2 separate regions of the Homo sapiens genome follow, and region 2 is linked to region 1. The links come from fine-mapping of genetic effects on gene expression. A gene starts in region 1. The other region holds a variant in brackets. All regions are shown on one strand. Distances are from middle to middle.

Region 1 (12,152 bases):
CGGCCAGTGCGGCCTGGCCTTCAAGTGGTCGTCCCACTACCAGTACCACTTAAGGCAGCACACAGGCGAGCGCCCCTACCCGTGCCCGGACTGCCCCAAGGCCTTCAAGAACTCGTCCAGCCTGCGGCGCCACCGCCACGTGCACACCGGCGAGCGGCCCTACACCTGTGGAGTCTGCGGGAAGAGCTTCACGCAGAGCACCAACCTGCGGCAGCACCAGCGCGTGCACACGGGCGAGCGGCCCTTCCGCTGCCCGCTCTGCCCCAAGACCTTCACCCACTCCTCCAACCTGCTGCTGCACCAGCGCACGCACGGCGCCGCCCCCGCCCCGGGTACCGCCTCCGCGGCCCCGCCCCCCCAGTCCCGGGAGCCCGGCAAGGTCTTCGTGTGCGACGCCTACCTGCAGCGGCACCTCCAGCCCCACAGCCCGCCCGCGCCTCCCGCCCCGCCGCCCCCGCCCCCGCCCGTGGTGCCTGAGCTCTTTTTGGCGGCGGCGGAGACCACGGTGGAGCTGGTGTACCGCTGCGATGGCTGCGAGCAGGGATTCAGCAGCGAGGAGCTGCTCCTGGAGCACCAGCCGTGCCCCGGGCCCGATGCGGCGCCCCAGCCCCAGGAGGCACCCGCCGAGGCGCCCAAGGCCGACCAGCCACCGTCCCCTCTGCCGCAGCCCCCTCCTCCCGCCGCCGCCCCCGCGCCTGGCTTTGCCTGTCTGCCCTGCGGCAAGTCCTTCCGGACGGTGGCTGGGCTCTCCCGCCACCAGCACAGCCACGGGGCTGCCGGCGGGCAAGCGTTCCGCTGCGGCAGCTGCGACGGCTCCTTCCCGCAGCTGGCCAGCCTCCTGGCGCATCAGCAGTGCCACGTGGAAGAGGCCGCGGCCGGGCGCCCGCCCCCGCAGGCTGAGGCTGCGGAGGTGACCTGCCCCCAGGAACCGCTGGCGCCTGCCGCCCCCGTCCCGCCGCCACCCCCGTCCGCCCCCGCTTCTGCGGAGCGGCCCTACAAATGTGCCGAGTGCGGCAAGTCCTTCAAGGGCTCCTCCGGGCTGCGCTACCACCTGCGGGACCACACGGGCGAGCGGCCCTACCAGTGTGGCGAGTGCGGCAAGGCCTTCAAGCGCTCCTCCCTGCTGGCCATCCACCAGCGGGTGCACACGGGCCTGCGGGCCTTCACCTGTGGCCAGTGCGGCCTCACCTTCAAGTGGTCGTCCCACTACCAGTACCACCTGCGGCTGCACTCTGGCGAGCGGCCCTACGCCTGCGGGGAGTGTGGCAAGGCCTTCCGCAACACGTCGTGCCTGCGTCGCCACCGCCACGTGCACACTGGCGAGAGGCCCCACGCCTGCGGTGTCTGCGGCAAGAGCTTCGCGCAGACCTCCAACCTGCGGCAGCACCAGCGCGTGCACACGGGCGAGCGGCCCTTCCGCTGCCCGCTCTGCCCCAAGACCTTCACCCACTCCTCCAACCTGCTGCTGCACCAGCGCACGCACTCGGCGGAGCGCCCCTTCACCTGCCCCATCTGCGGTCGCGGCTTCGTTATGGCCGCCTATCTGCAGCGGCACCTGAGGACGCACGCCCCGGCCAACACGCCTCCCAGCACCACAGCCCCTGCCGCCGGCCCCCAGCCCCCTGCTCCACTGGCTGCTGCGCGGGCCCCGCCAGCCACCCAAGATGTCCACGTCCTGCCCCACCTCCAGGCCACGCTCTCCCTCGAGGTGGCGGGGGGCACGGCCCAGGCCCCGAGCTTGGGGCCAGCAGCGCCCAACTCTCAGACGTTCCTCCTGGTGCAAACTGCCCAGGGCCTCCAGCTGATCCCCAGCAGCGTGCAGCCCCCTACACCTCCGCCCCCTCCCGCACCTCCCAAGCTCATCCTGCTGCCCTCCTCCAGTGCTGGGGCTGGGGGCGGCCGTGCAAGGCAGGGCCCGCGGGCAGTGGGGAAAGCGGGCCAGGGGGCGGGAGTGGTCTGGCTGCCAGGCCCTGGGGGTCTAGGGGTGCAGGGAGCGGCCAGCGCTGGGGCCAGCGGGACAGGGCAGAGCCTCATCGTTCTGCAGAATGTGGGGGGTGGGGAGGCAGGGCCACAGGAAATGAGTGGGGTGCAGCTCCAGCCCCTCCGACCAGCCCCAGAAGTAACCACGGTCCAGCTCCAGCCAGCGCAGGAGGTGACCACAGTCCAGCTCCAGCCAGCACAGGAAGTAACCACGGTCCAGCTCCAGCCAGCACAGGAGGTGACCACGGTCCAGCTCCAGCCCGTGGCCGGCCAGCTCTCCAATTCCAGTGGGGGAGCTGTGGCTACTGAGGCACCCAACCTGCTGGTTGTTCAGAGCGGGGCAGCTGAGGAGTTGCTCACTGGCCCGGGCCCCGGGGAGGCGGGGGATGGCGAGGCCAGCACTGGTGTGGTCCAGGATGTCCTCTTTGAGACACTCCAGACGGACGAGGGCTTGCAGAGCGTGCTGGTGCTGAGCGGGGCCGATGGCGAACAGACTCGACTCTGCGTACAGGAGGTAGAAACACTTCCTCCTGGGCTGACGGAGCCGCCTGCCACCGGCCCACCCGGACAGAAACTCCTCATCATCCGCAGCGCCCCAGCCACTGAGCTGCTGGACAGCAGCAACACTGGAGGAGGCACCGCCACGCTGCAGCTCCTGGCCCCACCGCCGTCAGGCCCAGCCTCGGGCCCCGCGGGGCTCCCCGGGGCTCCAGCCTCCCAGATGGTGCAAGTGGTCCCCGCAGGAGCTGGGCCTGGTGTTATGACCCCTCAGGGCCTGCCCTCCATCCAGATTGTCCAGACTCTACCCGCAGTCCAGCTGGTGCACACGTTTTGAGGAGAGGCAGTGATTCCCCTCCCGCCCCGCACAGAGACCCCGACTCACTGCCAGCCGGGGCGGGGCAGGGTGCCGCAGGCTGGGCTTGCTAATAAAGACCCGAGTCTCCCCGCCTGTGTTTTGTTTTCCTGGGGGGAGGGAAGGGGGCAAAGTCATGGTCCTAGCCCCCGCCTGGGAGCGTGGAGTCTTAAGTCTTGCGTCCTGGGTCGCAGATGGCTTGTTCTGCATCCTGGGGCCAGCCACTACGTAGGGCTCAGTTCCCCTGTCCTGAAACCAAAAAAGGCCGCAGGGGTCATTATAGTGGGGAGGTGGTGACATCAGACTCCAGGGAGTGCTACTTGTTCACTGTAGGTCGCCCCGCTGCCCCCCTCGTGTGAGAAGTAGGGGGATCCTTATGCGGAAGGGTTCTGCGACCCCGGGCGCCCCGTGGGTGGAGTGGGGTCCCTGGGGATGGGGGAGTCGGGCGCCAGGATGCTGAGCGTGGCCGGCTCCTCCCGCGAAGGCCCCGGCACGGATGAGAATCCACGCGCTGGCGTCGCCGCCCGGCGCTCAGGTTGCTCAGCAACGAGGGAACGTGGGGCGGGAGCTCGCGCTGGTCCCCAGCCCGCCGCCCGTCTCCTGCCGGCTTCCGCTCCCGTTCTTCCCCAGGTCCCCTTTCCCCGTTGCTCCTTCTCTAGGGATAGGAGAGGTCGCTTCCCGGCCCTCCGCAGGGTCACAGCTCGGTTCCTCCCAGCCCGCCCTCCGGGGAGCTTAGCAACGGTTGCTACGGCCCGGAGCGGGCGCCGCCCCGCCCCACCGCGCGCGGTCTGACGTCACTTCCGCCCGCGACCCCCTTCCAGACCCGCTCCCGAAACCTTGTCGAAGGACCAAAGGCGACCGGTGCAGGTGCTTGCTGGTCCTTGTTCTTGTGGCGCGGGACGGGGACGACTGTGGGGGAGGGGGCGCTGGGGACCGGGGTGGAGCGAGCGTGGTCCGTTCTCTGGCATGTGGGGAGGGTGTTCGTGGACCCCAGTGCCTGGGAGGGAGCCCCGTGCTGCAGTGTTGGCGTCCGCAGCGCGTTTGGGAGTGTAGATCGCTGAATAATACGGGGGAGGGGGGATCCCGGGAGACTTTAGCAAGGTCGCTGAGTATTGTGGGGGGCGCCTGTCCTGCCGAGATCCTCGCTTGGGGGCCCCGAGGGTTCTCAGTGTCCTGATCTGGGAAGTGCCGTTGCTGCTCCCTACCCCTCGGGGGAGCTTTGGGGACAGAGGTGCCCCCCTGACGCTGACCTACTTATGTTCTCACCAGGTGCACGACGCCAGCTCCCTTCTGGGGGGCCGGGGCCTGGGGGTTGCCATGGCCCCCAGCCACCTGTCAGTGCGGGAGATGAGGGAAGATGAGAAGCCCCTGGTGCTGGAGATGCTGAAGGTGAGAGGCAGGGGCCCCAGGGGGCCTGGGAGTGGCTGCAGTGGGGGAATTGCAAGTGGATTCAGCCACCCCCTCCCACCCACCTGAGCCAGCCTGGACCCCTGGAGCGGGATCTTTTCCTCCTGAGCCTCAGCCGCCCTGCTGCTGAAAACCACAGCAGGTGTGGCAGGTGGGGGCTCACCCCCCCAGCCCTACTGGGACCCCAGCACCAACGCCCTCCCTGGTCTCCCATCTCCAGTCGGCTGTGCACGCCAGCACAACAGCCAGCTCTGTGCCTCGGACCCCAACTCTTCAAAGCACAGCCCAGCACCCCAACCTAGCCCAGCAGCCTCCCTCCAGCCTCCACTCCAGCCTGAGGCAACCTCCCTGTCCTTACTTCCCTGGGGCCTCACTGCGGCATTGCTACTGAATTGAGTGCCCCCACAGCTCCTAATTCACTCATCCATCCATCATTCGCTCTCGTTCATTCATTCACTCCATACCCAGTGTGCCACACTGAACATCGGACTGTGCTGCCTTCCCTTCCCATTTGGGAGCTCTCACCCCGCCCCGGGCAGGGTCTACCTCCTCTCTTTGTCCAGGAGGCCCTAGCGTTTCGGATGGCTGAGCCACCCCTCCTGCCCACAGGCCGGCGTGAAGGACACGGAAAACCGCGTGGCCCTCCATGCCTTGACACGGCCGCCGGCCCTGCTCCTCCTGGCGGCGGCCAGCAGCGGCCTGCGCTTTGTCCTGGCTTCCTTCGCCCTGGCCCTCCTCCTGCCGGTGTTCCTGGCTGTGGCCGCCGTGAAGCTGGGCCTGCGGGCCCGATGGGGCTCGCTGCCTCCGCCGGGTGGCCTGGGGGGCCCCTGGGTGGCCGTGCGGGGCTCCGGTGACGTGTGTGGGGTCCTGGCTCTGGCCCCTGGCACAAATGCAGGGGACGGGGCCCGGGTCACCCGCCTGTCTGTCTCTCGCTGGCACCGCCGCCGGGGCGTGGGCAGGAGGCTGCTGGCCTTCGCGGAGGCCCGGGCTCGGGCCTGGGCTGGGGGCATGGGGGAGCCCCGGGCCCGGCTCGTGGTCCCCGTGGCTGTGGCCGCCTGGGGGGTGGGAGGGATGCTGGAGGGCTGTGGCTACCAGGCCGAGGGGGGCTGGGGCTGCCTGGGCTACACGCTGGTGAGGGAATTCAGCAAAGACCTGTGAAGCTACAGACTGACAGCCAGGGCAGGGGAGGAGGGAGGGGCGCCAGCACCTGATGATCGCCTACTGTCTGCGGGTTCTTTTACCTGCTCTCCCTCAGTGAGTCCTCAACCACCCTGGGCCCAGAAACAGAGGCCTGCCGAGGGGAGGAGCCTGGCCTCTGTCCACCCGTCAGCAGTGTGAAGTCTGTTGTGTTTGAGCTTCTCAGAGTGGAATGACTCCTTTTCCTTCCTGGCCCTCGGGGGCCTCTCGAGGTCAGCCTCTCCAACCCCTACCTCAGCTCCTGTCTGCACTGAGAAACCTCCCCGGGTGATGTCTGCAAAGTCTGTGCTGTCCGTGCCCCAGGCTGGGAGAGCTATCTGGGGAGGGGGAGAGGAGGCCGAGCAGAATACACCCCAGAGTTAGGGTTTGCGACTCCGCCTCCCTGGGACCTGGATTGGGTCAGATGCCTGTCCTTGGAGGGGACAAGGTTGACTGCTTAGGAGGCGCGACGCACAGGGCTGCCAGGCCTGGCCCCTCTCTGGGAAGGTTGAGAGCTGAGACGGGCAGCCCTGTCCCTTCCTCCAGATCCGTCTGGTTTTTTACACCGTTTGTTAATAAAGCCTGAAACCGCTGTGTGCCTGTCTCTTCTCTGATGGCTTTCCCAGTCTGTCTCCGGACACCCCCGCCCATTTCTGTCTGGCTTCTCCTTTCCCCAGTTAACATTAATTGTTGGGGGACGGTGCTGGACTGGGAGAAGGGGAGGCTGTGAGCTCAGGGGCAGCCCGAGGCCCTGCCAGCCCTTCTGAGTCACGCTCCCCATTACCGAATTTTTTCCGCCTCACAGCTGCCTGGTGTGCAGGCAGTGGGGTGTGTGTGTGTGTGTGTGAGTGTGTGGAAGAGTGTGTGGAGCCCCTCCCCTTCCCAAGCCTTGACCCTTGTGCTGCTTATCCCCCGACCCCAGCTCCCTCTGGGACAGTGAAGTTCAACCTCTCCTCTCTCAGCTGGGGACTGGGGGCTTCACACTCAGATCCACCAGTGAGTGGGAGGACTGGAGGGCCGGGTCTTTCAGTCTCTTTTCCTAACCCAGGAAGTCCCTCCTGGTGTCTGGCTGCAAATCTTCTTGCTGCTGCACCAAGAACCCCAGGTCTGCCCAGCCCCCAACCCTAGCAGTGGTCTCACTGGATTTCCCTGACCAGACAAGAGGGGAGACAGCAGGTGGGCGCCCCTCCCGCTCATGCTGCGCCCCCCCCGCACACGTCCCCCAACCCCTGTCCTGTGCCTTCCTGCAGCCGGCCACCCCCTAAGCATCTCTGGGCACAGCACTTTGCTGGCTGGAGCCTGCCTGGCCGTCGTCTCCATCTCCCGTGTGGGTGTCTGCAGTTGGACACCCTCCCTCCCGCCCGCCACCCCCCTCCCCCCCATGCCTCAGCAGACGGCCAGCCCCCTCCCGCCCCCCCTCCCCCCCACCGTCCCCTGCCGCCTCCCTGCAGCCTCTTTCTTCCTCCTGGCAAAGCGTCCAGCCCTGCCTGCTCCTCCTCGGGCCTGGGCGCCTCCAGCAGGCACTTCCCTCCCTCCCTCTCTCCCCAGCTGCCTCCTCCTCTTCTCTCCCCGCTCTCCTTCCCCTTTCACCCCATCCCCTGCCCTGGCTGCAACCATGAGGGTCTTGGCCTGCCTCCTTGGTGAGTGATCCATTCTCCTTGGGGACTCGGGGGGCCTAGGCCCCCACCTCTGACCCCTTAGCTTGTCCAGTTTAGGGACTCAAACTTCCGGGACTGGTCGCTGGTGCTCCTGCATACCCTGACATCCCTTCTGAGGATCCCTGCTCAATCTGCCCAGCCTTCTGCCAGCCCAGAAGCCCAAGGGACCTGCCCCCTGCCCGCCCCCCAGCCCTGACCCTGCGGGGGATCTCCCAGACATCTGACCTTTAGCCAAGCCCATGTGTGTGTGTGTGTGTGTGTGTGTGTGTGTGTGTGTGTGTGTTGGGGTATTCAAGATGAGGGGCCTGCGCTGGAGAAAGGGCCACCCCCGGCCTGCCCCTCACACTGCCCCACCCTCCGCCCTCCCTTCCAGCGGCCCTGGTGGGGATCCAGGCTGTTGGTAAGTGCCCAGACTCCTCCCATCTGCCCGCCCCCCCCCCCAGGCCTCCCCCTTCTGCCCATCCAGGCCTGGCCTCACCCCCACTGGGTCCCCGGCCCATCCGAATTCCACTGTGACCTTGGCCCCAGCTCCGCAAGGGAATCCCCCAGGTGTCTGGCCGCATCTCTCTGAGCACCCAGGAGTCTGGGCCCAGGGGCCAGTGAGCAGGGCCACTGGCCTACAGACAGTACCTGCAGGACAGCCACCTGCCCCTACAGTTGCCCTGGCCTTGGGGCCCCCAGGATGCCCCTCCCCAGTCACAGCCATTCCTCCAACCCTCAGAGCGCCTGCGCCTGGCCGATGGCCCCCATGGGTGCGCTGGCCGCCTGGAGGTCTGGCATGGCGGGCGCTGGGGCACCGTGTGTGATGACGGCTGGGACCTGCGCGATGCCGCCGTGGCCTGCCGGCAGCTGGGCTGCGGAGGGGCACTGGCCGCCCCGGGAGGCGCCTTCTTCGGGGAGGGGGCAGGGCCTGTGTGGCTCAGCGAGCTGGCTTGCCGGGGCAACGAGGGGCAGCTGGGCCTCTGCCACCACCGGGGCTGGAAGGCCCACATCTGCTCCCACGAGGAGGACGCGGGCGTCGTCTGCGCAGGTGAGGACACCCTGGCTGCTCCTTCAGGGGGAGCTCCTTTGGAGATGACCCAGGAACCCCAAGTCCTTAGCCCCAGCAAGTCTGAGTGTTCAGCAGTTCAGAGACACCCAACCTCCCATCCCCTCCAAAGCCAGGTGGCTAACTCCCTCTTCCAGGGACCCAAATGGCCTGGATTCCCCTCCTCTCCTCATAGCTTCTGTCCCTGCCCCCCCGCCGCAGGTCAGCGTGTGGCTAACTCCAGGGACGACTCAACATCTCCCCTGGATGGGGCTCCCTGGCCAGGGCTGTTGCTGGAGCTGAGCCCCAGCACGGAGGAGCCCCTGGTGACACATGGTGAGCCCAGGGGACTGCCCTGCCAACCCCCACCCAGCGTGCCCTCCTGCCCCCCCCGAGGGGAGAGGGACTGCCCTGCCAACCCCCACCCAGCGTGCCCTCCTGCCCCCACCGAGGGGAGAGGGACCTCTGCAGTATGAACTCCCAGGGGACACACAGCCCGCCCCCTGCCCCGCCCCGTCTCCTTCATAGCCTAGGGAGTCCTCCATCACTTCAGACCCTCAGAGACGGAGGCCTGGGCCCCCAGGTGGGAGGAAGGATGAGGGGCTCAGCTCCTGACCCCTGGCTGTCTCCACTCCCAGCCCCCCGCCCAGCTGGGAACCCCCAGAACGCCTCCCGGAAGAAGAGCCCCCGGCCCAAGCAGGCCAAGTCCACCCGGGCCCCTCTGCTGACGACAGGAGCCCCCCGCCAAGGTAAGCTCCCTGCAGGCTCCCCCGACCCCAAGGCTGGTTGCTGTGAGGCCCAGGGCCCAGAAAAACTGAGGACCTGCGGGCGCCCTCTCCTTAGCCGGGGCCCTGGAGGGATCCCAGTGTTCCCCGCGTCCCTCCCCCGGGGATTTAGACGGCCAGGCCTGGTCTCCCCTCTTCTTCCTGCCCTGTCAGGAGGCCCAGGTGTCCTGGCCCGCTCAGGTCGTGGACTCACCTCTTCACGGGCTGCCGGCGGACAGATCTCAGGCCACCGCTCCCTCAGGCCTGTTTCCCCAGGTGGAAATCGAGGAAGGGGTGTTTGAATCATTTCTCACTGGCCACACCGTCCCCTCCCTGCTCACCCCACAGAGCGGCTGCGCCTGGTCTCTGGCCCCCACAGGTGCGCCGGACGCCTGGAGGTCTGGCACGGCGGGCGCTGGGGCACCGTATGTGACGATGGCTGGGACCTGCGCGACGCTGCTGTAGCCTGCCGGGAACTGGGCTGTGGGGGGGCGCTGGCTGCCCCCGGCGGTGCCAGATTCGGGCCTGGTGCAGGGCCCGTGTGGATGGACGATGTGGGGTGTGGAGGAGGAGAACAGGCCCTCCGAGACTGCCCCCGAAGCCCCTGGGGCCGGAGCAACTGTGACCACAGCGAGGATGCGGGGCTGGTCTGCACCGGTACGTCGGGCTGGGGCCTGGCCCCCTCCTGTCTTCCTCAGACCCCAGCTCCCTCTTGCCCCTCCAGGAAGCTGCAGCGGGCCTGCTCCCAGCTCTGCCTCCTGCCCGCCTGCTCTCTGCATGCCCAGCGCCCACTCACCACGCTCTCCAGCCCCTCCTTCCACAGCTCCTGCCGTTCTCCTTGCCAGGAATGGGAGGAGCAGGCTTGAGGCTTGGGCTAGTGCTCAGCCCTGTCCCGGGGCCTAGGCCAGTGACCGTTTGTTTAAGCCTCAGTTTTCCTGAAGGAGCGATGGAGCTAAGAATGCCTGCCTCAGGCTTGAGCCAAGTCCTGGAACGCAAGAAGCCCTGCCTGCCCTCTGCCACCGGGCTGGCCATGGCAGGGGACCGTCTCGGAGACCTCTTGTCTCTGTGGCCAACCTCTGCTCCTTCCCCATCCTCAAGGGAGCTGGTGGGAAGGAGGGAGGGAGGGCGGTGACTTGGGGGCATGGAGGGAGACTGAGGCAGGGTGGGGACACCCACGGGTGAGCCTCCATCTCCCCTCATTCACGCCCCCTCAGCGCGGGGTCTCCTCCCCTCATGTCTCCCAGGGGGTCCCTCCCCTCTCCTGTACCCCTTGGACCTGGGATAGAACCCAGCAAACAGCGGTTGGGGGGTGTTAGGTGAGAGCTCAGGGGCTCCCTCCCTCCTTCTCTCCTTCCTTCCTTCCTCCCTCTTTCCCTTTCTCTTTCCTTTCTTTCCTTCCACAAATCTTTACACACCACCACGGCAGGCCCCACCCTGCTGGACTGCCCGATCCATTGACTGTAGGAGGCCGGCAGGCAGAGGGCACCCACCTGGCATTTCATCAGCGTTGGGGTGGGGACAGTACACGGGCTGCAGGCAAAGCTGGGTGCCTGCCCAGGATGGGTAGGAAATGCTGACATCAGTGGGTATCCAGGGGGGAGAGAAGAGAGAAAGAGGCTGACCCTAGTCTCTGCTGTATGCTGGGCCCTGCGCTGTGCACGTTACCTGGGGCCGCTCTGAGCCTCCCGCAGCCCGGACGGGGTGGATCCTCATCCCTCTCTTCACAGATGTGGGGCCGAGGCTCAGAGAGGTGACGTAAATGGCCCAAGACCCAGGTGCCTAGCAAGCTCCAGCCCCAGCCGCTGACCCCTCTGGGTCTGTATAGACCCACGCTCCATGCCTGTCCCACTGCACAGTCGGCCATAGGGACGTGGTGGGGACACGGAGGTCAGAGTGGGAGTGAGCAGCAGAGAAGGCTTGTATGGGGTGGGGGTGGTGCCTTCGTGTGCCTAGTGTACAAGCTGTGGGGGAAGAAGTGGGACCTTCGGAGCAGAGTTCATTGGAGGGAAGTTGAGGCTCTGGAGAGGAGAGGGTGAAGGTGCCAAGAAAGGAAACAAATGAACTAAGGCGCCCGGTGAAGCTGGGAGCTTCGCCAGCATCTGATTTAATTCTCATGGCAACCCCGGGAGGGAGACGCTCCCCTCCCCTGTCTGCAGATGAGGAAAAGCAGACAGGTGTGTTAGACTCCTCCCTAGTTCTGTGCTCTTCTCTAGAACAGTGATTGGGGGCAATTCTGCACCTGCCTCGTTGGGGGACAGAGAGAGGGACTCCAGAGTCCTCCAATGATGAGTCAACTCTTACCCCAACAGAAATGTACCCGAAGAGCCAGGCATGGTTACAGGCTAACACCTGTAGCCCACGTGCTTTGGGAGGATTTCTTGAGGCCAGGAGTTCAAGACCAGTCTGGGCAACATAGTGAGACCCTTTCCCTACAAAATATAAAATAAAAAAAAAATAGCAGGGCATGGTGGCGCATGCCTGTAGTCCCAGCTACTTGGGAGAGGCTGAGGCGGGGAGGATTCCTTGGGTCCAGGAGGTCGAGACTGCAGTGAGCCAAGATTGCACCATTGCACTCCAGCCTGGGTGACATAGTGAGATCCCCTCCCCCCAAAAATAAAAAAATGAAATGTACCCTATGTATCCTAAGGCCAGCGAGAGGTTAATATCTAGACTAGTGGCTCTCAGCTGGCAAGGGAGTGAGGGCTTTCTCATCCCCTTCCTCCCCAAAGGACATCAGGCAATGTCTGGAGACGTTTTTGGTTGTCGCAGCTAGGGGGAGGGGTTGCCACTGGCATGTGGTGGGTAGAGGATGCAGTGCAGGACAGTTGCCACGATAAAGGAGGATGCCCAATGCCAGTGGTGCTGAGACTTGGAAATCCGGCTCTCTAGGATCCGAGGGGCCAGGCATGGGAGGTGGATCCAGGGGACCAGAGCCAGAGCTCCCAGCGTCCCCAGCCCCCACCGCCCCAAGGCAAGGGATATGGGGGATGCGCCAGAGTTGGACTCCGGGCCAGTGACTTCCTGTCTTGGAACCTTTTCCTCATTTGGATAGTGAAGATGGAATATTTGCTTCCCAGAGTCATCTTGGGGTTGCAGCCTGCCTGAGCATAGCTTAGTCCCCGCTCATCCACCCTCGTTTCCTGGCCCTGTGCTCCCTCTCCCACTATCCAGGCCCAGCACCTCGGCTGCGCCTGGCCGATGGCCCCCACGGGTGCGCCGGCCGCCTGGAGGTCTGGCACGGGGGTCGCTGGGGGTCGGTGTGTGACGACGCCTGGGACCTGCGAGAC
Region 2 (12,152 bases), 730 kb before region 1:
ACTAGCTTTCAGCCTTCTGTCAGCAGTAAAACTTATATATTTTTTAAAATAATTTCAATGTAGTTTTCCCTCCTTCAAATAAACATGTCTGCCCTCATGGTTTAGGTAATGGGACTCTTTTCTTGCCTAAGGCTTCCGGTGTTATCAGTACCATGTCCATATAATCCCATCTGTTCTCCACCGGGTTCTCACCTCTGGACTCTGAGCTTCTGGAAGCAGTGTGGAGCCTCATTTGTCTCTGGGACTCCAATTTCCATCCAAAGATGCAGCACATAGGAGGTTCCAAGGATCGGGAATCACATGAACAAGTGACATTGTTACTCTCTGCAGACCTGGAAAGCTGGCAGAGTCATTCCACGATGAAACATTTGTAGAGTCATAGGCCTTGTTAGTCTCATCTCCATGGGGACACATATCAACACATCATCTTTCATACTATAAATATACGGTCACTCCTCCGTATCTGTGGGGTTTACAGGTCTTTATTGAACAAAGTATAAATCAAAAATATTCAGAGAAAATATCCACAGAGTTCCAAAACTCATAACTATGTTGAATGGACACAAATGAAGCTGTGTGTAGGCTGTATCAGGAATTATAAGTAATCAAGAGATGATTTCATGTATACAGGAGGATGTGCATATGTTATTTGCAAGCGCTGTGCCATTTCATATAAGAGGCTTGAGCATCTACAGATTTTGGTATCTGAGTGGAGATCTCGAAACCAATCACCCACGAATAGTGAAGGATGACCGTATATGACTTTTATTTCTCAAATTTAAATATAAATCAAAAAATGTACAACTAGATAAAAACTAAGAAGTGTTTTTATAGTGTGAGTTAGATTTATTTTTTACTAGGTGTAACCCATTGGTTTAATATTATTTATTGAGAAGACATTCTATGCCACCTTAAACCACACGGCAGCCTTTGTCAACTCTAAAGGGACTGTGTGTACATGGATGTATTTTAGACAGTTTCTGCTAAGGGGCTGTCTGTGTCCACACACTTGATGATGCTACACTTTATGTAGCCTTATAGAACCCTTTAAATTTAGTAGCCAGAGCCCTCTAATTTGTTATTATAGGCTATTTGCTTTTTTTTTTCTTGAGGCGGAGTCTTGCTCTGTCGCCCAGGCTGGACTGCAGTGACACAATCTCAGCTCACTGCAACCTCCGCCTCCCAGGTTCAAGCGATTCTCGTGCCTCAGCCTCTTGAGTAGCTGGCGTTACAGGTGCCTGCCACCAGGCATGGCTAATTTTTGGATTTTTAGCAGAGACACGGTTTCACTATGTTGGCCAGGCTGCTCTCAATCCCCTCATCTCAGTTGATCCGCCCACCTCGGCTTCCCGACGTGCTGGGGAAACTTGATTTTCTATAGCATTATGTTACTGGATATTTCTGTAAAATTTAAAATGAGGGAGGCAGAGAGACAGAGAGAGATCAAACTCCAGAGTTGGGACTCTGGAATCTTGGGTCATGAGACAAATTTTAGATTAAACTACAAAACTCCAGAATTTACAGGTGTGGTTTTTGCTGATAAAGTACAATTCTAACATTGTAAATAATTGCATAATCCTTCCCTGGGAATTTAAATCATTTTAACTGGTTCTGCTGTAATACTAGAAATACAAGCATGAAAAATTCTAATGGTTTATTAGTCACAATGACTCTGAAAACCTTAATAATACCTATTAAATATTTTGCATATTACACATGAAGAAGAGTTTGAATCTCAGATAAAAACAATAAAAATACATGAAAAGTCTTTCACGTTAGCACAGATTTTAGGCATCTCGTGTTCAGGAGGTTGGATCTGAGACGTGTTTTGAGTTGGTCATAGTGAAGGACGCTAGGTGTAAATTCTAGTGAGAACAATTTCCAGGAAGCCGTGTTCCGCTCTTGAGCGAGCACCCACTGGGCCTCATGCAAGGTAGAATGAGCCTGCGTACGTCACCCTCCCATGATGTGGTCAACATGTAAACTGCATGGGCAGGGCGCCAAATAACATCCTGTGCGCTGCTGAGCTGAGCTGGGGCACGGCCGCCTGTCTGCACCGGCAGCACCATGTCGCTCACGGTCGTCAGCATGGCGTGTGTTGGTGAGTCCTGGAAGGGAATAGAGGAAGGGAGTGTGGGGTTGGAGATCTGGGCCCAGAGGTGGAGATATAGGCCTGGAGGTGGAGTTGTGGGCCTGGAGTGGAGATCTGGGCCTGGAGTGGATATATGGGCCTAGAGATGGAGTGATGGGCCTAGAAGTGGAGATCTGGGCCTGGAGTGCCGATAGGAACCTGGAGGGGAGATAGGAGCCTGGAGTGGAGATATGGGCCTGGAGGTGGAGTTATAGGCCTATAGTAGAGATATGGGCCTGGAGTGGAGATTTGGGCCAGGAGTGGAGATATGGGCCTAGAGGTGGATATCTGGGCCTAGAGTGGAAATATGGGCCTAGGATGGAGATATGGGCCTGGTTGTGGAGATATGGGACTGGAGAGGAGATATGGGCCTAGAGTGGAGATATGGGCTTGGGGTGGAGATCTGGGCCTGGGGTGGAGATATGGGCCTGGAGGTGGAGTTACGGGCCTTCAGTAGAGATATGGGCCTGGGGTGGAGATATGGGCTTGGGGTGGAGATCTGGGCCTGGAGTGGAGATATGGGCCTGGAGGTGGAGTTACTGGCCTTCAGTAGAGATATGGGCCTGGTGTGGAGATATGGGCCTGGATTGGAGATATGGGCCTAGGTTGGAGATCTGAGCCTGGAGTGGAGATATGGGCCTGGATTGGAGATATGGGCTTACAGTGGAGATCTTGGCCTGGATTGGCGATATGGGCCTGGATTGGCGATATGGGCCTATGATGGAAATATCGGCCTGGAGTGGAGATATGGGCCTGGAGTGGAGATACAGGCCTAGGGTGGAAATATTGGCCTGGAGTGGAGATATGGGCTTGTGGTGGGGATATGGGCTTGTGGTGGGGATCTGGGCTTGGAGGCTGGGTCTCTGCACAGCCGACAGCCCTGTTCTTGGGTGCAGGTAGGCACTGAGGGTGAGTTTAACTTCAGTCCAGGAAGGGCCTGCCTACCAAGACTCACAGCCCAGTGAGGGCAGCAAGGGAGGGCTGGTTTGCCTGCAGATGGATCGTCCATCATGATCTTTCTTTCCAGGGTTCTTCTTGCTGCAGGGGGCCTGGCCACATGAGGGTGAGTCCTTCTCCAAACCTTAGGGTGTCATCTCCCCACATAAGAGGATTTTCCTGAAACAGGAGGGAAGTCCTGTCAGGGAGCCTCTCATAAACTAGGAAGAGGGGACCCTGGGGTGCTCGGCCCACAGTTCCGACCTCGCCTCCCTGGCCTTTCATTCCCTTGGCAGAGTCAAGTTCTGTGGGGACCAGGGTTAGACTGGGGTGCTCAAAGCTGGGGTGCGTGGTGGGGAAGTGGTAGGAACAGCAGATCCTCTGAGGACAAAGGTGTTACTCACACTTCAGCGTTTCCATGACGGTAGGGGCTGCAGTGTGGCTGCTGTCACTCCACCAGAAGAGGTGGGAAACCACAGCCATGGCCCTGACATTCCAAATCCTCTGATGGGGGCTCAGTTGCTTATTTTCATTCAGGCATCTGCTGATATTCCATTCTCAAAGACATGCCCTCCACCCCATGTCTACCCTGTGTTGTTTTATGTGAGTAATCTTACAGTATTAAAATCTAGTAGGAGTCTCTTACTCAGCACTTGCTCAAAGTTCTCAGCTGACACTTTTGTTGTAGGGAGACACCTTGTGTTTGCGGGATGGGTCCTTCCTTTAGCCCTGGGCACCAAGGTGTGATAGCAGCCATAGAAACTTGGAAAGCGAGGAGAATCTTCAGAGCACAGGGAGGGAGGGGTGGCTCCACATCCTCCTCTCTAAGGCGGTGCCTCCTTCTCCCCAAGGTGGTCAGGACAAGCCCTTGCTGTCTGCCTGGCCCAGCTCTGTGGTGCCTCCAGGACATGTGATTCTTCGGTGTCATTCTTATCTTGGGTTTAACAACTTCAGTCTGTAAAAGGAAGATGGGGTGCCTGGCACTGAGCTCTACAACAGAATATTCTGGAAGAGCCTTTTCATGGGCCCTGTGACCCCAGCACACACAGGGACGTACAGATGTCGGGGTTCACACCCACACTACCCCAGTGGGTGGTCGGCACCCAGCAACACCCTGGTGATCATGGCCACAGGTCAGAGGGCTCCTGTCTTGGATTCTCCTTTCCCACCTCCTGAATCCCAGAGCTTCTGGTGGGCGTGTCCTTGAGGGTCCCATCACCCAGGCCCTGACTATATTTGGGGTAAAGGGGGATTGAATACAGGGAAATGGGTGCTGTGGTGGGAAGAATAATTGTCCCCAGTGATGACTACATTCTAATCCCTGGAGTCTGTGACTATTTATGTTATAGGGGAAGGAACTGAAGGGGAAGATGGAGCTCAGGTTGTTGATGAGTTGACCTTGAGATGGGGAGACAGCCTGGACTGTCCCGCTGGGCTCAGTGTAATCACAAGGGTCCACATGAAAGGAGGAGGAAGAGGGGAGTGGGGATTAGAGCAGCGCAATGGGAGACTCCACCAGCTTTGAAGGTGGAGGAAGGCCAGGAGCCATGAATGCAGGTGGCCTGTAGAGGTTGGAAAAGTCAAGGAAATGATTCTCCAGAGTCTCCAGAGGGAACGAAGCCCTGCAGATGCCTTGATTTTAGCCCAGGAAAAACAGGGTCCTATTTCTGTCTCCAGTAGTGAAATGGGTCAGTGTGCTCTCTCCTGCTGCCATGCTTCTGATAATTTTCTACAGCAGCAACAGGAAACCAACACTGGAACCCAGGTCAAGGACAAGGTAAGAAACAACACAAGGATAGCCGGGTGTGGTGGCAGGCGCATGTAATCCTAGCGACTTGGGAGGCTGAGGGCAGGAGAATCACTTGAACCCAGGAGACAGAGGTTGCAGTGACCCTAGACCACACCACTTCACTCCAGCTGGGGTGAAGGAGTGAGACTCTGTCTCCATAATTAATTAATTAATTAAAGGAACCAAACAAGGGGAAGGTTGGCTACACCGAGATGAGCAAGTGTGGGATGATGATGCCACCACCAGGCTCCATCCACATAGGGAGGGGTTGATACTCCTCAAACCAGCACCAGGAGCCAGCCTATGGAAGCTGGCACCATGGAGAAGGCACAGGCATGGCAAGAGTGGCTCCCAGTCCCGACCAGGAACAGGGTGTGTGGACACTGGTGCCTGCCTTATTCATCAGTTCATACCTACTGCCAAGGATTCCAATTCATCCAAAAGAGATTGAACCAGGCTGATAAGAGGCTGGATGTGCAGCCTATCCTGGTTCCTCTTTCACCCCCACATAAACAGCAGGAAAGACATTAGTGTGAAATAGATACAACACCCCAAGAGATGAGGCTAAGCCCAGTGGGAAGGGAATCAGAGGCGACTAGAGACAGAGGGACAGAGAAGAGGGAGGGAGACAGATGGAAGGACCTGCACCAGGAGTTATGGGCACAGAAAAGAACATGAAGACACAGAGAGGAAGGAGAGAGACAGACACCAGCAAGGGGAAGCCTCACTCATTCTAGGTGCCATGGATGGGATGATAAAGAGAGACACCTTCTAAACTCACAACCTCTCTTCCTAGGAGTCCACAGAAAACCTTCCCTCCTGGCCCACCCAGGTCCCCTGGTGAAATCAGAAGAGACAGTCATCCTGCAATGTTGGTCAGATGTCAGGTTTCAGCACTTCCTTCTGCACAGAGAAGGGAAGTTTAACGACACTTTGCACCTCACTGGAGAGCACCATGATGGGGTTTCCAAGGCCAACTTCTCCATCGGTCCCATGATGGAAGACCTGGCAGGGACCTACAGATGCTACGGTTCTGTTACTCACTCCCCCATCAGTTGTCAGCTCCCAGTGACCCTCTGGACATCGTCATCACAGGTGAGAGTGTCCGGACATTCTTCTCATTGTCATTGGGATGCAGAGTGAATGATCCACGACTTGGAACCCCCAGGTAGTTGTAAGGAAGATGAGCTTGGTATTCTTATGGAGAGAGACTGACTTGGTGAGGTCTGTACCAACAGAGACAGAGAAACAGGAGACACAAGTACAGACCAGGTGTCATAACAGAGGACAGACACAGGGGCCATACCGGGAGTTAGAAAAGACAGAAGGAGTTAAAGGAGACAGACAGACAGACATGTCCCAGAGAGAGGTGTCCCTCCATGCTGACTTTGCTCAGAGACCTGGCACAGGTTAGAAGTTTCATTTCTGTTTTACCTCCACAAAGTGTTCTCTACCAGGAGAACCCAAGGACACCCATATTTCTGACCTGAGTTGGGCCCTGTGGCCTCAGGCCTTGTGGCACCTACAGATGCCGTGTTTATTCTGACACCTCTGCCTTCCATGTAATGGAGAGTAACCGTCCCAGGATATCATGGCCCCAGAACACCAACTCCTGTATGCTGTGTGAACTTGTGGTCTCCAGACTGGATTCTGAGGCTCACATTCCAAATAACCCCACATATGAAAGGATCACTGAGAGGCACAGAGAGAAATCAGGGACACCAAAAAGCAAAGACATAAACACACAGAGAATGAGCCAGAGGAAGGAGATTGAGAGACTCACAGACACATAAAGAGAGAGAAAAGAGGGCAGAGGAGTGGTGAGAATGATGGAAGGGAGCAGAGAAAAGCACTAAAATTAGACTCCTGAGGGAGAGGCACAAGGACATAGAAAGATGGAGATGTGGGGATGAATTGCAGAGATTCCAAAGAGAACTAGAGAGACCGAGAGGCAGAGCAAGACAGATGATAGATGGATAGATATAGATAGATGATAAATAGGTAGATGATAGATAATAGGTTAAAGATACATAGATGATGATTGATTGATTCATTAATAGATGAGACATAGAGATGATGATGATGAAGACAGATAGATAATACATAGAGATAGAGAGGCAGACAGAAGTCATAGAGAGAGAGATGATACATAGATATAGATAACAGATGATTGATGGATAGATAGACAAGTGATAGATACATAGATGATATATAGATATAGATGACAGGTAGAGAATTTGTAGATAGGCACCGAATAGATAAATAGATAGATCGATAGATAATAGATAGAAATATGCAGAAAGTTATGAACAGGACACAAAGTGAGAAACTTAGAATTTAAAAAAGTAACATCAAGTCAACCAATCCAAGGAGAGTCAGAGAGAATAAAACAATCCAAAAAGGGAAAACATATCTAGAGGTGTGGAAGCGAGGTCAGAGACCTAGAGAGACAGAGAAGGTGGAAGGAGGAAATAGACATGAAGAGAGATGGGGTGGAGGGTGAGAGAGAGAGAGAGAGAGAGCATTAGGTCATAGAGCAGGGGAGTGAGTTCTCAGCTCAGGTGAAGGGAGCTGTGACAAGGAAGATCCTCCGTAAGGAAAATGCCTCTTCTCCTTCCAGGTCTATATGAGAAACCTTCTCTCTCAGCCCAGCCGGGCCCCACGGTTCTGGCAGGAGAGAGCGTGACCTTGTCCTGCAGCTCCCGGAGCTCCTATGACATGTACCATCTATCCAGGGAGGGGGAGGCCCATGAACGTAGGTTCTCTGCAGGGCCCAAGGTCAACGGAACATTCCAGGCTGACTTTCCTCTGGGCCCTGCCACCCACGGAGGAACCTACAGATGCTTCGGCTCTTTCCGTGACTCTCCCTA[C/T]GAGTGGTCAAACTCGAGTGACCCACTGCTTGTTTCTGTCACAGGTGAGGAAAGCCCATGGCTGTCCCATGTCCTATGATCCTAGAGCCTTAGCTGAGGAGCTTCCTGCTGAGGATGGAGAGAAGGATGAACAGATGCAGAGAGAAGACGAAGCTTGGGTGTGAGGGAGGGATCAGGGCACAGGATGGCAGACAGGGCACCTCCAAACCCTCCTACATGGCCTGCATGAAGGCCTGCGGCCAGGACTCCAGGCACCCAGGCAGATGGAGAAAGCGGTCAGGAGAGACCCAGAGGAGGGAGACTGGGCTCAGTTTGGGAAGATCAGAGGTTCCCTCAGCCCCTCAACATTACCCATTTCCCAGAAGCCCATCCTGGCCTCCCACCCACACAGGGATGTCATCACCTGCAACCCCTACACCCTTTACTTTTGTTTGAGAAATATTTATTGAGGATAAATATACCTATATAGCTTACCACCTTTAACATTTTTTTTTTGAGGCGGAGTCTAGCTCTGTCCCCTATGCTGGAGTGCATTGGCACAATCTCAGCTCACTGCAACTTCCGCCTCCTGGGTTCAAGCGATTCTCTTGCCTCAGCCACCTGAGTAGCTGGTGCTACAGGCGCGCACCACCATGCCAGGCTACTTTTTGTATTTTTAGTAGAGAGGGGGTTTCACCATGTTGGTCAAGCTGGTCTCGAACTCCTGACCACGTGATCCACCCGCATCAGCCTCCCAAAGTGCTGGGATTACAGGCATGAGCCACCACGCCCAGCCACATTTACCATTTTTAAGTGTAAAGTCTAGTGGTCATAAATACATTAATATATATATATATACACATATTTTTTTTTACCCTCCACCCTTTTCTTCCTGGCCTCTGGTAGCCACCATTCTACTCTCTACCTTCATGAGATCCACCTTTTAGCTCCTGTATATGGGTAAGAAATGGGAATCTTTGTAATGACCTCCAGTTCCATCCATGTGGCTGCAAATATCAGGATGTTTTTCTTTCTATGGAAGAGTAGTCTCCACTATGCAAATGTACCACATTCTCTCTATCCATTCACCCACTGATGGGCAGGTAGGTTGACTCCTCATCTTGGCTACTGTGAAGAGTGCTGCACCAATCATACGAGTGCAGATATCACTTCGATATATTGATTTACTTTCCTTTGGATATAAACCCAGTAGTGAAATTGCTGGATACTATGAAAGTTCTCTTTTTAGTTTTTCGTTTGTTGTTTTGTTTTTGTTTTTGAGACAGTTTCCCTCTGTGCCCAGGCTGGAGTACAAGTGATGTCATCTTGGCTCATTGCAACCTCTGCCTCCTGGGTTCAAATGATTTTCCTGCCTCAGCCTCCCTAGTATCAGGGATTATAGGCGCACGCCACCATGCCTGGCTACTTTTTGTTTTTTTTAGTATAGATGCGGTTTCCCCATGTTGGCTGGGCTGCTCTCAAACTCATGACCTCAACTGAGGTGCCCGCCTCGGTCTCCCAAAGTGCCGGGATTACAGGCATGATCCACCTCACCCAACCTCTTTTTAGTTCTTTAAAGGACTTCCACACTTTTCTCCGTAATGGCTGTACTAATTTACACTCCTACCAACAGGATACCAGGATTCTCCTTTCTCTAACACCTTGCCAGCATTTCTTTTGCCTGTCTTGCAGCTAAAAGCCATTTTATTTTATTTCATTTTATTTTGAGATGGAGTTTCGCTCTTGTCACCCAGGCTGAGTGCAGTGGTGCGATCTCGGCTCACCACAACCTCCACCTCCCAGGTTCAAGCGATTCTCCTGCCTCAGCCTCCCGAGTAGCTGGAATTACAGGCACACGCCACCACGCCCGACTAATTTTTGTATTTTTAGTAGAGACAGTGTTTCTCCATGTGGGTCAGACTGGTCTCAAACTCCCGACCTTATGAGATTCACCCACCTCAGGCTCTCAAAGTTCTAGGATGACAGACGTGAGCCACCACGCCCGGCCTAAAAGCCATTTTAATGGGGTGAGATGAAAACTCACTTTGATTTTAATTTGTGTTTCTCTGATGATGAGTGATACTGAGCACTTTTTCGTATGTGGGGAAATTTCATGTCTTTTGCTCCTGTTTCAATTAAATCATTTGTTTTATTGAGTTGTTTGAGCTTCTTATATTTCTAGTTATTAATCCCATCTCAGATGCATAGTTTGCACATATTTGCTCCCAATCTGTGGGTTGTCTCTTCACTTTGTTGGTTTATTTTTAGCGGTGCAGAAGTTGCTTAGTTTGAGGTAATCCCAATGGTCTATTTTTGCTTCGATTACTTGTGTTTTGAAGGTTTAAAACAAAATGTCTTCCTTCAGACAAACGTCCTGGAGCATTTCCCCAATATTTTCTTCTACGTGTTTCATAGGTTCAGGCCTTAGACTCACATCTTTAATCCATTTTCATTTGATTTTTGTGTATAGTGACAGGCAGAGGTGCAGTTTCATTCCTCTGCATGTCGATGTCCAGGTTTCCCTGCACTGTTTATTGAAAAGACTGTCCTTTCCTGATTGTGAGTTCTTGGCACCTTTGTCAAAGTCCATTGGATGGGCTGGGCATGGTGGCTGACACCTGCAATTTCAGCACTTTGGGAGCCCGAGGTGGGTGGATCACCTGAGGCCAAGAGTTCAAGATTAGTCTGGCCAACGTGATGAAACATCGTCTCCACTAAAAATATAAAAATTAGCTGAGCATGGTGGTCAGCACCTGTAATACCACTACTCAGGAGTTTGAGGCAAGAGAAGTGATTGAACCCAGGAGGCTGTGGTGGCAGTGAACCGAGATTGCACCTCTGCACTCCAGCCTGGGTGACAGAGCAAGACTCCATCTCAAAAGAAAAACAAAAAATACATTGGAGGTAAATGCATGGATTATATCTGTGTTATTCATTCTGCTCCGTTGTTCTATGTGCCTTTCTTCATGCCAACGTCATGCTGTCTTGCTTACTACAGCTCTGTAACATATTTTGAGATCAGGTAGTGTGATGCTCCTGTTTTCTCTTTATACCTTGAAGTCTCAAGACAGTAGCCGTCACATACAAAAATTACGGAAAAAAGGATCCCAGGACTCCCAGGGCCCAATATTAGATAACAGAGTGTTGGCCATGAACCAACCTCAAAGATTTCCACTGAGTAGAGGACAGACACCCTCATTTCCTCACCTCTCTCCTGTCTCATGTTCTAGGAAACCCTTCAAATAGTTGGCCTTCACCCACTGAACCAAGCTCCAAAACCGGTGAGTACAGAACCCTCTTATATCCGCTTTTGGAAACCTGGGGAGGTGGAAACCTTGGATTCAGGCGTTGACTCAGCATCTCACAGCTCTGACATTGTACGCCTGTCTTCTACCATCTCCAAACTCCAGATACTCCAACAGCGAAAGGGATCTGGACCCAAAACAGGGCTCTGTGAAATCTCTTAATCTCTCATTTTATGGAGCTGAGATCTCCTACAAGCTAGAAAAATGATTGGCAATCTGACATCCTTCTCAGGAAAAATGCAATGTTTGTTCTGCCTGCATTCCTAACTGGAGGATAAATTCCTGGGGGCTTGAGAGAGGGAAGGGTAGGGAACATTTGATGAGGGCGAGGTGTTTTAGAGAAGTTCCACTTGCCCAGGAATGAATTACTGTTGGTCATGAAGCAACCCTGGCTGACTCAGCAGAGCAAGAGCTTTGCCTTAACAGAGAACGGAGCTCATGCACGCACACTTCGACTCACTGACTCATTCAGCCACGGCCCCATGCTCAGGCCGTGGAAAAGGCAATTCCCAGCACTGCAGGAGGCCAAGGCGGGTGGATCACTTGAAGTCAGGAGTTCCAGACCAGCCTGGCCAAAATGGTGAAACCCTGTCTCTATGAAAAATACAAAAATTAGCCGAGCATGGTGGTGCATCCCTGTAATCCCAGCTCCTACTCTTGAGGATGAAGCAGGAGAACGACTTCAACCCAGGAGGTGGAGGTTGCAGTGAGTGGAGATTGCATCACTGCACTCCAGCCTGGGTGACACAAGGAGACTCCGTCTCAAAAAATAAAAATAAGAAATGCATAAATATAATAAAACACACACGAATGACAAAGGCACCTGAATTCCAATCATCATTTTTGTATTTCTCTATAATTACTTCTTTGATCCTTTGTCTTATCCATTAGGCAATGAGCCTAAAACCTCTTCCGTATTTGGCTTTCTGTGAGCATGAGACCATATAGAAAATGTGAAAGCCTGCTGAATCCTCCAGCACAGATCGTGGAATAGAGAAAGTGCTCTGTTCATCACAAAAAAAACTTGCCCTCTCACTCAAATCCCCCACTTCACCCCTACTTCCAATCACCTGTGGAGATTCAGATAGACCATGGGGAGGTAAACATTAATACTCCTTGGAGTGAGTCCAGATCTTGGAATG

The links. PIP is the estimated chance that this variant, and not a neighbour inherited with it, causes the effect.
Region 2: its variant is fine-mapped to the expression of SSC5D in ileum (GTEx, PIP above 0.99).

Annotation. Positions count from the first base shown.
Region 1 is chr19:55,481,559-55,493,710 of GRCh38, forward strand. SSC5D (scavenger receptor cysteine rich family member with 5 domains) reads left to right here and starts at 6,878. Exons shown (of 14, transcript NM_001144950.2): 1 at 6,878-7,056; 2 at 7,448-7,474; 3 at 7,796-8,104; 4 at 8,324-8,437; 5 at 8,740-8,850; 6 at 9,214-9,522; 7 at 12,037-12,152. The coding sequence starts at 7,032. It overlaps ZNF628 (zinc finger protein 628), which reads left to right. Exons shown (of 3, transcript NM_033113.3): 3 at 1-2,929. The coding sequence ends at 2,815. It overlaps NAT14 (N-acetyltransferase 14 (putative)), which reads left to right and starts at 3,630. Exons shown (of 3, transcript NM_020378.4): 1 at 3,630-3,700; 2 at 4,103-4,222; 3 at 4,850-6,008. The coding sequence starts at 4,151. The coding sequence ends at 5,398. RefSeq lists silencers at 564-858, 3,420-3,839 and enhancers at 696-1,409, 3,940-4,269.
Region 2 is chr19:54,752,956-54,765,107 of GRCh38, forward strand. It overlaps KIR2DL3 (killer cell immunoglobulin like receptor, two Ig domains and long cytoplasmic tail 3), which reads left to right. Exons shown (of 8, transcript NM_015868.3): 8 at 1-97. It also overlaps the pseudogene KIR2DP1. Among named protein-coding and RNA genes, the nearest start is that of KIR2DL1, 11 kb to the right of the region's middle. RefSeq lists an enhancer at 10,850-12,049. The variant C/T (reference allele first, on the strand shown) is at 7,727.